Homo sapiens: one gene and its partners. The protein of the gene in region 2 purifies or fractionates together with the protein of the main gene of each other region. This does not show direct contact. Each region holds a gene or a part of one and is shown on either strand. Other genes may lie near its edges.

What was found.
Region 1: the proteins of HGSNAT (region 2) and TRABD purify together in Homo sapiens (affinity purification with mass spectrometry, with the first as the bait; one large-scale study listed by BioGRID). This does not show direct contact.
Region 3: the proteins of HGSNAT (region 2) and MCAM fractionate together in Homo sapiens (co-fractionation; one large-scale study listed by BioGRID). This does not show direct contact.

Annotation. Positions count from the first base shown.
Region 1 is NC_000022.11:50,188,824-50,192,465, reverse strand, and holds part of TRABD (traB domain-containing protein), read right to left. Parts: intron 1,880-3,642; exon of another isoform or gene 1,670-1,879; intron 1-1,669.
Region 2 is NC_000008.11:43,143,322-43,146,963, forward strand, and holds part of HGSNAT (heparan-alpha-glucosaminide N-acetyltransferase isoform 1 precursor), read left to right. Parts: intron 1-3,626; coding exon 3,627-3,642. UniProt on the Homo sapiens protein: Lysosomal acetyltransferase that acetylates the non-reducing terminal alpha-glucosamine residue of intralysosomal heparin or heparan sulfate, converting it into a substrate for luminal alpha-N-acetyl glucosaminidase.
Region 3 is NC_000011.10:119,314,227-119,318,490, reverse strand, and holds the start of MCAM (cell surface glycoprotein MUC18 precursor), read left to right. Parts: upstream 1-1,360; 5' UTR 1,361-1,389; coding exon 1,390-1,456; intron 1,457-3,227; coding exon 3,228-3,352; intron 3,353-3,450; coding exon 3,451-3,658; intron 3,659-3,741; coding exon 3,742-3,812; intron 3,813-3,914; coding exon 3,915-4,002; intron 4,003-4,264. UniProt on the Homo sapiens protein: Plays a role in cell adhesion, and in cohesion of the endothelial monolayer at intercellular junctions in vascular tissue.

The DNA of each region.
Region 1 (3,642 bases), on a different chromosome or scaffold from region 2:
TGGAAGGAACCACGGTAGAAACCCGGACAGGCTGGGGCAGCCACACGAGGGGGCTGCCCCGAGGCATCACAGCTCCCCACAGACTCTCAGAAACCAGGAGCTCAGGCCGGGGGCCCAGGAGCCTGAGGGAAGGAAGAAAACAGCCAGGCGCCTGCAGCACCAGAGGCACGCACCGGCCAAGACCCACAGAGCATCGGCGAGACCTGCGCGGAGCCCCTCGAGGCGGGGCCAGGGACCAGCAGGCTGTCCTGAGACTGGCCACAGGCCCTGCTGCACCATGTGGCTCTTCCTGAATGTTCTCAGCCACGGAATGCCAGGAGTGACTGTTTACCAAGTTAATGGCTCATGCATGTCCTGGCGGATGGATGTGTCACCAGGCAGAATCATTAAAATATCCCAAACAGGCCAGGCGCGGTGGCTCACACCTGTAATCCCAGCACTTTGGGGGGCCAAGGTGGATGGACTGCCTGAGCTCAGGAGTTCGAGACCAGCCTGGCCAACATAGACCATCCTGGTGAAACCCCATCTCTACCAAAAATACACAAATTAGCCAGGCGTGGTGGTGCACACCCGTAATCCCAGCTACTGGGGAGGCTGAGGCAGGAGAATCACTTTGAACCCGAGAGGCTGAGGTTGCAGTGAGCCGAGATCCTGTCACTGCACTCCAACCTGGGTGACAGAGGGAGACTCTGTCTCAAGAAAAAAACAAAAGTAAAAAATAAAAATGAGCCGTTGGAAACCATTCTGAGCTGTCTAGTCGTGCAAGGTATTGTGGTTTTGTCTTGAAGCGTCTGCGTCAGTCAGACACGAGCATCTGGCGAGGAAACGACGGGGCTTGTAGGATGTGCTTCAGAGGGGCCACTGCCGGGTTCTGCACTGATGCCTGCGTGCATCTGGGGTCATTTTCATGTCACTACTGCTGCCCACTTCTCAGAACTCATAAGAAAAAGGAACAATGAGCAATAAGACGCTATGTCAGGTTCCTTTCCTCTGCAAACCCTGTTGGCACACAGCCACAGCAGGCACAGACCTCGGCCCCAGCCAGGACTCACAGACCCAGCTGGGTCCTGGCCACCCACATCCAAGTTAAGATGCCTCCAAGCTTGGGTGTCCTAACCTGTGAACAGGAAGGAGCTCTCTGTGCAGTGTCTAGGAGGGCAGCTCAGGGGCTGGGGGAGCAGGGACGGCTCTGAGCAGGGGAAGAGGCCTGTCTCAGTGCAACCAGAGGCCCCATCTGAAGCTGGCCGAGAAGAGGGCAGCCCACCCTGCCCTCTTCTTGGACAGCCGGGACTTCTGGGAGAGGAACTGGCCTGGCTTGGGGTGGGTGGTGCAATGGGGCCATGGTCGGGGGAGGTCAGCTGAGACTAAGGAGACAGCTGATAAACACCAGGCTCATGTCCCCGGGGGCCTTGAGCCTCTGCAGAGGGCAAGGGGGGCCCGCTCCACAGGCAGGCTCCCCTATGGGGCCTCACAGCCTTGGCAGGGGGTCCCACTCCTTGCCACCTGGGCTTGAGTCTGGACCCAACCCTGGCCTGGGCGTCTTAGCGGTTGGCACATCCAGGAAGTGCAGCTGGCACCGGTCACAGCAGGACCAGGCCCCGGACCCTTGGGCCGCCTCCTTCCCCTTTTGTAGGTGAAAGCTCCACGATGCAACCCGACCGGAACCCACCGGAAGCTGTTGTGAGCAGCCGCCAGGCCAGCCAGCCCAGACAAGCACCCGGTCCGGGAGACGGCCGCCTCCCTGGGTCTAGCTACACACACAAGCCAGAACTCTTAGGAGCAGCGCAAGACTGCCGGGGCGCACGGGGGAAACTCACACACGGAAGTCCGGACCATTAGAGCAGCGCAAGGCTGCCGAGGCACACCGGGGAAACTCCTTAAAGAAACTCCTGTGCAGCCGGGCGGGAGGCTGCGTCGGCCCAGCCAACAGGAGGCGCCCACGTCGCCACAGCCCTTCCCCCATGGGTGTGGCAGCCCCAGGTCTGCGGTCAGCCCCCACCCTCCACCCAGCCTGGCCAGACCCGCCTCTGAGGCCGGCCTAGGGTACGCCTGTGGCCATGGACAGGGCAGGGTCTCGGTGCAGCAGCAGGCGCTGGTCCTGACCCCAGTCGTGCCATGGGGTGGGCGTGCACAGGTCTCCTGTCAGGGAGGGCAGAGAAGCTTTCCTGGGCCGGCTGCCAAGCCTTGAGCAGGACGATGTCAGCGCCACCAGAGGCAGTGCCAGCCCCCAGCCCTGGCCCCTGCAGCCTCTCAGCAGAGGCGTGCTGCCCGCAGGGAGCCAGGCGGGAAGGTCACTGAGGACCCCCCAGCACCTAAAGCCCGTGATTCTGGGGGACGTCTCTGACAGTCACTCTTACAGTCTCAACACTCTCTTTCCCTCCTCGCCAAGGCCCCTGGAGAGCTCTAGGGTGTGATTTCAGGTTACCAGCCCTCCTCCCTCTAGTCTGCTCCCAGGCAGCTGTGCTCTCAGACATTTATGGCTGGGCCCAGAGCCTCTCCCAGCTGCCTGGCGGTGAGCAAAAGGCCCTGGCCCAAAAGCCACAGATGCTGAGCCTGGACTCTGAAGTGTCTTCAGAGACAATGTCTGAAGAACCCCCACCTGGTTCCCAGCCCCACAACCTCTGGGTCCCAGCAGAGCATCACCTGGGGTCCGGCCAGCACACACTGCAGCCACCCCCTCTGGGTCCCAGCAGAGCATCACCTGGGGTCCGGCCAGCACACACTGCAGCCACCCCCTCTGGGTCCCAGCAGAGCATCACCTGGGGTCCGGCCAGCGCACGCTGCAGCCACCCCCTTTCTACCTGTCCTTTTCAGATACGCTCAGGCCCATCAGCAGAGACCAGCAGACCCTGGCTGCCCCTCCGGGGGGACAGACATCTCTCCTTCCCAAATCCCCAGTGCTGGCACTGCCCCAGGGAACCTCGCAGTGGCTTCTGGCCTTGTTACCTGCAAGGCCAACCCGCTGGGAAGCGGTGCAGCCTGGCAGGAAGCCAGACGCTTGTATCAGACCAGCTGTGCTTCACTCTCCCTGCCCCGCACGGACGTCCACCGAGCAGGACTGGGGTGGGTGCTGAACACGATTTGTGGGACATGCCTCCTGAGCATGGGTAGCCGGCAGACAGGGTCCTCAGATCTCAGACCCCAGTGCTACCCTGGGCAGGATGCTCTGGGCAGGAGCCGCCGTTTAAGGCGGGAACCTGCCTCCAGGGCCAGCATCCCACCTGCCCCACACAGGAGGCCCTCTCTGGGCTGCAAGCACAAGCCACATTCAGATGCTGCTTTAGCGGTCAGCCTCGGCCTCGAGCTTCTCTGCCGCAGCACAGTCTGTCCCGAAGGCAGAGAACGGGGTGGAGACCCACAGGGCAAGAAAAGACTTAGCAGCCCGATTTCAGGAGACCCTAGACACTGCCTCTGAAGACACTTGTTCTCCAAGCACTGTCCCTCATCTGTAAAAAGGGATATCTGGCTTTGGAAACCATGATCCTCTGTGCAGACGAAGCCTCTGAGAATTCCCAACAGCCCCAGGAGGACATCTGTTGTGCGCAAAAGCCCATCCGTTAGGGCTCTGCCTGAGGTGTGCGGCCCTAGGACACAAAATCAGAGCGGCATCTACAGTCCTTTGGCGTCAGAGACGGCTGTCTG
Region 2 (3,642 bases):
GCTAACATATGAGGGAAACATGGAAAGGCTAATCTGGCTGGGCTTATAGGGAGGGATCTGTTGAGGCTCAGGAGACTGGTTAGCCGTTATGTGCACAGTTAGACTGACCTCAGCTTAAATCCTGGCTGCTAGTAGGTGACTTTGGGCAAGCTGCTTGACCTCTTCAGGCCTCAGATGCCTCATCCCAAAATGGAGACACCAGGAGCTATTTCTTTCTTTCTTTTTTTTTTTTTTGAGACAGAGTCTCGCTCTGTCGCCCAGGCTGGAGTGCAGTGGTGCGAACTCAGCTCACTGCAAGCTCCGCCTCCTGGGTTCACACCATTCTCCTGACTCAGCCTCCCGAGTAGCTGGGACTATAGGCACCCACCATCACGCCTGGCTAATTTTTTTTTTTTTTGTATTTTTTAGTAGAGATGGGGTTTCACCGTGTTAGCCAGGATGGTCTCAATCCCCTGACCTCATGATCCACCCTCCTTAGCCTCCCAAACTGCTGGGATTACAGGTGTGAGCCACCGTGCCTGGCCCACCAGGAGCTATTTCATAGGGCTCTTGGGGCCTGGTGGTTCTTTGGTAAGTGTGGTTCTTTGTATTACCTGGGAGATCTCAACCATCACAGTTGTCATTAGAAATCAGCACAACTGAATTGGAGAGAAATTTTGTAATGCATATCAGAAGCTATTCAAAAGCCTGTTTTTGGTTAAAGATTTTACTCTTGGGCCCGGTGTGGTGGCTCACGCCTGTAGTCCTAGCACTTTTGGGAGGTCGAGGTGGGCAGATCACTTGACCCCAGGAAGTTGAGACCAGCCTAGGTAACATGGTGAAACCCTGTGTCTACAAAAAAAGACAAAAAAAAATTAGCTGGATGTGCTGGCATGCCCCTGTAGTCCCAGCTACTTGGGAGGCTGAGGTGGGAGGATTGCTTGAACTCAGGAGGTTGAGGCTGCAGTGGGCCGAGATCTTGCCACTGCACTCCAGCCTGGGAGACAGAGCGAGACTCTGTCTCAAAAAAAAAAAAAAAAAAATTTTAACTGGATGTTCCCGATCCTGAAGAGGCTCTGTTGGTCTCTGCATTGGTTGGATGTGGCCTGGATCACTGTAATGTCTATGTGTTGAGCACTTGTTTCTGTGCCAGCCACTTTGTAGATGGTCAAGTTTAGATTTCCCAACGGTTTCATGAGGCACATACTCTTATGACCCTTAATTTATTGGTGAGGAAACTGAGGCAAGTTGGGCTTCAGATTCAAGTTTAACTTGAATTTATCCCACTATGTCATACTCCAGGTCCCAAACATCGCTTCCACTGAAAGCTTTCCAGGAGACCAAAGAACAGAAAAAATGATTGTGAAAGCTTTCTTTGGCCTAGAGAACCAAAAGCTATAGTGGATTATTATTATTATTATTATTTTGCTGAAAGCTTTATTTGTTCTCACTTAGGGTAAATGAAAAATTTCAAGATTTGGCTACAACTTCATTCTTTGAAAAGTAATGTTTTACAGAAAGAGAGGTTAGGGGTACTGGCTCTGAAGACAAAGCTTAGATTCAAGCCCAGCTTCACCACTTACACCAGTCCCCTGATTTTGCCGTTTCCTTGTGATATAAGGCACTCAGGAACACAAGCCAGGCACACAGTAAGTGTTCAGGAAGTGCTGGCATTATGAAGTTCAAACAGCACCACTGGTAAATGAAGTTCAGATTTCAGAGGTGGAGACTGTGTATGCAGCCTCACAGCTAAGTGGATGCCATGGTGAAATGTTTAGATCATAGGCCTTTGAGAAGAATTATCAGAATGTTAGAGGAATGGGCCTCCCTTGGCACCCAGAAATAAACGTTAAAGGAGGCTATTTCATCATATAACAACTTCCGAACTTCTAGAAAAGTGAAAAGAGAGGCTTGGGTAAGGAAGATGAAAGCCCTCCCACCACCCTGCGTGCTGACCTAGGGCATCCTTCCTTCTACTCTGTTGTTAGATCCTCATGATGGCCAAAAAAAAGCATTCTTTAACCTAAAGCATCCCCATGGCTCAATCTCTACCCCTTCATCACCAAGGAAAAGCCAGCTCTAGTGGATTAAGAGTTTTATACTGCAGGGCTTGTCTTCACTGAGAGCTAAATAAGGGTAAAGTAAGATAAACTTAAAAATGAGGGATTGAGGCCCGGCACAGTGGCTCATGCCTATAATCCCAGCACTTTGGGAGGCCGAGGCAGGCAGATCACGAGGTCAAGAGATCGAGACCATCCTGGCCAATGTGGTGAAACCCCGTCACTACTAAAAATACAAAAATTAGCTGGGTTTGGTGGTGCGTGCCTGTAGTCCCAGCTACTCAGGAGGCTGAGGCAGGAGAATGGCTTGAACCCGAGTGGTAGAGGTTGCAGTGAGCCGAGATCGCGCCACTGCACTCCAGCCTGGGTGACAGAGCAAGACTCCATTTAAAAAAAAAAGAAAGAAAGAGGGATTGAGCTGGCTACGTGAAGAATTCATGATTCTGCCATTCAAATGAGTGACTAGGGAGCCCAGAGGAAGCTTTCCCATTACAAAATAGAGACCGAGTTCTTACCTTCCTCATTGTGTTATTAAGTAGTTCCCCATTTTTTTCTTTTGGGTAAATTTACTCAGAGGATAAATTAACTTCTCTTTTATATAATATCATATAAATGGCCCAGTTGGTTGACATGAACCACTCTGCTTTGACTTTTAGACAAGAGCAGTTCACTTTATTTTTCCTACCAAATTGGCACACGTGATTTTAGAATGTGCGTCATCTTTCTGTCATCCTCAGCACATCATCTAGTGAACTGGTGAGCTGTGTGAGTTTCTGGATTGGGGCATGCTCCCAATCCAGGATTCACTGCTCCCAATCCAGGAGCAGTGAGTTTCTCTGCCCTTCAGACTGAGGCTTGTCTTAAAACTGTCTGCTTACCCCTCTCCGATCTGCCATGGAAATTAGGATATTCCAAACTCCAAAACAAAGTGATAGAAAGCAGCACTTCTCAAACTTTCAAGACACGTGCACCCCGCCCCTGGGCCTCGCTAACCTGTCTGACTCAAGCAGGTTCTGCATTTCTAACAAGCTGCCTGGCTACAATCGCAGCTCAGTAACGTGGTAGGGGAGAAAGCTTGAACTTTAGAGTAATACAAATTGGGTTCATATCAATTATTTCATTGAAAAACCGTGGTCACAGGCAGTTATCTAATTCTTGAGAGGCTTAATTTATTCATCTGTAAAGTGGGGAAAATACCTAGCTCATAAGATTGTCATTATTATAGGGAAACTACTAAATTCAGTACATGTCACATCTTAGCACTCGATGAATATAAGTTCCTTACACGATCCTTTGATGCACTAGATTTGAGTGGTGTTGACTGAATCCTCTTGTAGTAGAGACATCTGTGCAAAAGGAGACCTGTGTGTGTGCACATGCATGCATGTGTGTGTGTGCACATGCATGCATGCACGCACATATATCTGCGCATACACAAAGTAATGTGTGAGAGACCCCAGAAATCCCAGAGTGTAAGCTTTTGAGAAGCACTACTGGAAGCAACTGTTCACACGAATGTACTTTGTCTCTAACACATCTTTCGGGTGCCTTTTTTTTTTTTTTTTAACTTTTCCTAATTTCTACCAGACTTAGACAAAAAAAG
Region 3 (4,264 bases), on a different chromosome or scaffold from region 2:
TGGCATTGGAGGAGGGGTCGAGAAGGCTCTGAAAGACAAGCCTGGTGTGGTTTTCCAGTCATCTCTGCGTCATCAAAACGCCACCCCGGAGCATGCTCTCAAGTCACCTGGCCATCTCCAGGGTTTGCTGGCTCACCCTCCACCTCCCCCAGCGAGCAAAGGGGTGGCCCCGCTGGGCAACAGACCTCTACCCAAATCCAGGCCCCTATTTGGCACTCCCTGGTGGAGGCGCGCCAGCAGATGTGGACCCCTTTTCTGAGGCCAGGCTGCTGGGGTCAGAGTGAGGCAAGAGCACCTCCCCCTCCCTAGAGCCTTAGTTCAAGAGGCCAGAAGACCCAGGGAGAAGCCGGCGTTTTGGGAGAAGGGGAGCTGCAGAGCTCCCCACCCAAGCAGGTCTGATTTGATTCTTCCCTCAGCTATGGACCCACAATCAATAGGGCTGGGGAAGACATGGGGTGGGGGAAGATCAGCGCTGCCGGGATCCTTTCAATCATCAGGAACAGCAACAGGTTTGCAGGGTCAGGCTGGGGACCCTCGCCCATTAACTCTTTCTTCTCCCTGTTTCTTTCTCTTAGGTGAGGGGAAACTGAGTTCCAGGGTAGGCTCCAGAGTGAAGAGGGAAGAAACATGATTCTCAAGGCCCAGGTCTGGACAAGTGTGAACACCTTGGGCCTGCGAATTCAGCCCCCTCCTTCCTTTCTCTGGTCAAAGGCTAGACTTGCAGGAGCTTGCGTTTGAAGGGACAGCCCAGAAGGCATCGTCTGCACTCCCCATACAGGTACTTCTGGGTCTGTGGGACTGGCGCAGGGTTCTTCTCCCAAAGCTGCCAGCACTGAGGCTGAGGCAGTGTCAGGCCGGCGGCAGCGGCAGTGGTGCAATCGTTCTGGGAAGCGATAGAGGCCGGCCTGAATTCTCTGTGGCAAGGGAGGGGAGCCCAAGTGGGAGGCCCCTTGGGGACACCGAGGACCAGGTCCGCTACTGCTCCTCCCCCAGGAGGTCCCCTAGGGGCTACATTGGCTGGCAGGGGCTGAGCAGCGGTGAGCCTGGCTGGCTTCGACCCGGGGCGACTCCGGGCATCCGGGACAGCTTCTCCTCGCTGCCACCTCGGCCAGTCAGACCCCGAGACACCTGTCACTACCCCCTCAGCCTTCCCAAGCCAGGAGCCTGGGAGTCCGGCTCTGGCCTACCTCCGGCAGCGCTCCTAGGCGCAGCTCCCGGGCTGGCGGCGCCGGGGCCCGCCCCCTAGGGCTGCGGCGCGCGGGGCGGGGGCTGGGGGCTGCGCGGGGCGGGGCGGGCCCGGGCGCTCCGGGCCCCCTCCCCCGCCCCCCTGACGTCAGCCCCCGGCAGCCTCGAGCTGCTCACTTGGCTCTCGCCCTCCGGCCGGGAAGCATGGGGCTTCCCAGGCTGGTCTGCGCCTTCTTGCTCGCCGCCTGCTGCTGCTGTCCTCGCGTCGCGGGTGAGTTCGCTCGCAGGGGGGCCGCGCCCCGGCTAGGGGTCTGCGGTGGAGCGTGCCAGGGAGCAGAGCCAGCGGCGCGGCGGGGTCGGGGCGTTGCGTCTGGGAGGACGAGCCTCCTCCCTGGGTCCCCGATCCCCGGGCGCCTTGCGCGCGAGCAACTCTTCTTTGCAGCCAGTTTGCAGCCGGGATTCTAGAGTATCCCGGGAGCAGCACTCGGAAGGCGGGGAGGAGGCTGCTTCTGGGAACGAGAAGGGGTGGAGCTCAGCCTTTCGGGGTGCTGGGGGGTGGGTGGTCCCTGAGGTGCTCACTCTGGGGGCCCGCAATTGAAGCCGGGCAGGAGGCGCAGCTGGGGCGCATCCTCAAAGCCTGAATTCCGCGCCCGCCTGTTGCTGGAAAAGGCAGCTTCCTTCGCTGGAGGGGGTGCGCCGACCCACCCCTTCCCCCTTCTGCCTGGGCATCACGCCAGGCTGGAGGTGAGCGAGAGCGGGAGGTTCGGCGGCTCCCGCCCGAGCTGGGCGTTGGCAGGGGTTGCGGGGCGGTGTGGGTCGCCTCGCGCCTCCCCGAGTGATGGGATCATAGGGGACAGAGATGAGGGATGGAGGATTCCCATACTGGAAGCGCCCGCTGGCTTATTTTGGGGACCACATTCAGGTGGGAAGTGCGCCCGGGCACCTCGGAGCGTTTCTCCGGATCCGCCTGGTAGCAGGGCGCTCTCGGGTCCACGCTGCCCTTGTATGGCCCGCAGCGGTGTCGCGTGTTTCTCTTGGCTCCCATTCCGCCGTCCCAGCCGCTGTCCGGCTGGGGAAGGGGAGGGCTAGGCAATACCCAGCTCGCTGGCCTCATGCCCAGTGCCAACCATGTCCCTGGGGTATTCCAGGCTACTGCCTCCCAGGCTGACTTTATTTCTGGGGAAAGGGCTAAATCGGGCTCCACAGTTGCAGCCGGTCCAGCTCCACCCTGCCCTGCTCTTCTAGCTCTGGGAGGAGTCAGGGGTCTGAGGCTCTGGGTTGGAGACCCCACCTTCCACCTGCCCTCCTTGTCCGAGAGCCAAGGTAACAACCCAGGCATCCCAGAGCCCAGGCAGATGGTGTCGAGTGACATCACCTCCTCACAGGGCTGGCAGCACGCTGGCACCACTGACGTCACTCCTGCCCACTGCCTGGCCCTTGCCCTGACCCCTGGGGGAGACTCTGACCTCTCCATCCTTACCAGCTACCTAGGGTGGGGTCCGCGGGTGTGTGCGGAGTGTTCATGGAGGTGCTGCTGAGGGAGCATGAGACCGGAACTTCCGCCAGAGTTAGCCCGCTGGGGAGTGAGGGCAGGGATTTTGGAGGGCAGAGGATAGAGCAGTGGTGTCTTCCCCTGGCGGTGGTGACACAAAAGGGCCTGTGTGCCCCAGCCTGGCACATGCTTTGCATTCCCACACTCTGAGCTCACCCGGAGAGGAGGGGGCCTGGAAGGAAAGGGGCCTTCCTCTTGGCCCCGAGCCTAGGTTGCCCCTTTCTGCCCCTCTACCAGCCTCAGCTGGAGCTGTTCGGTGCTCAGTCTCTGCTCAATCTCTGCTTGGCTCCAAGGACCTGGGATCTCCTGGACGGGGAGAGGGCTGGCCCAGGTGGGGCGCGGGTCGGGGTGGGGGTAGAGCGTTCAGAGGACAGGGCCCTCTGCAGACCCTCTGAGTGGCAGGAAAAACAGCTGCAGCAGCGCTGCGAGGGGAGGGGCGGACAGCAGCCGGAGCTGACACAGCTGCGGGGGCCCCGCCTCCCTCCCCCAGGTGTGCCCGGAGAGGCTGAGCAGCCTGCGCCTGAGCTGGTGGAGGTGGAAGTGGGCAGCACAGCCCTTCTGAAGTGCGGCCTCTCCCAGTCCCAAGGCAACCTCAGCCATGTCGACTGGTTTTCTGTGAGTGCTTGGGCTCCTGCAAGAGCAGCCCGGGGAGGGAGACTCTGCCCCTCTTGTAGCCCAGGACCCTTCTCCTCCTCTGTGTCTCCTCCCATTAGGTCCACAAGGAGAAGCGGACGCTCATCTTCCGTGTGCGCCAGGGCCAGGGCCAGAGCGAACCTGGGGAGTACGAGCAGCGGCTCAGCCTCCAGGACAGAGGGGCTACTCTGGCCCTGACTCAAGTCACCCCCCAAGACGAGCGCATCTTCTTGTGCCAGGGCAAGCGCCCTCGGTCCCAGGAGTACCGCATCCAGCTCCGCGTCTACAGTGCGTGACCCTGTGTCTGCCAGCAGGGTAGTGAGGGTGGTGGGACGTGGCCAGATGTCCCCCTCATTTCTATTTTCTTGTAGAAGCTCCGGAGGAGCCAAACATCCAGGTCAACCCCCTGGGCATCCCTGTGAACAGTAAGGAGCCTGAGGAGGTGAGATGTGTGGCAGGTGGGCTGGGCAGCTGGTGCGCAGCCGCTGAGATGGGGCTTGAAGGGGGCTCGGAGGCAGGGAGACTCACACCCTGTGCTCTTTAGGTCGCTACCTGTGTAGGGAGGAACGGGTACCCCATTCCTCAAGTCATCTGGTACAAGAATGGCCGGCCTCTGAAGGAGGAGAAGAACCGTGAGTAGCCCTTTCTCCCAAAAGCCACCCTTGGGCCAGGTGTGGTAGCTCACACCTGTAATCTCGGTGCTTTGGGAGGCCAAGGCAGGAGGATCTCTGGAGGTGAGGAGTTCAGGACCACCTTGGACAACATAGGGTGACCCTGTCTCTACAGAAAATAAAAAAATTAGCCAGGCATGGTGGTGTGTGCCTGTGGTCCCAGATACTTGGGAGGCTGAGGCAGGAGGATCATATGAGCCCAGGAAATGAAGGCTGCAGTGAG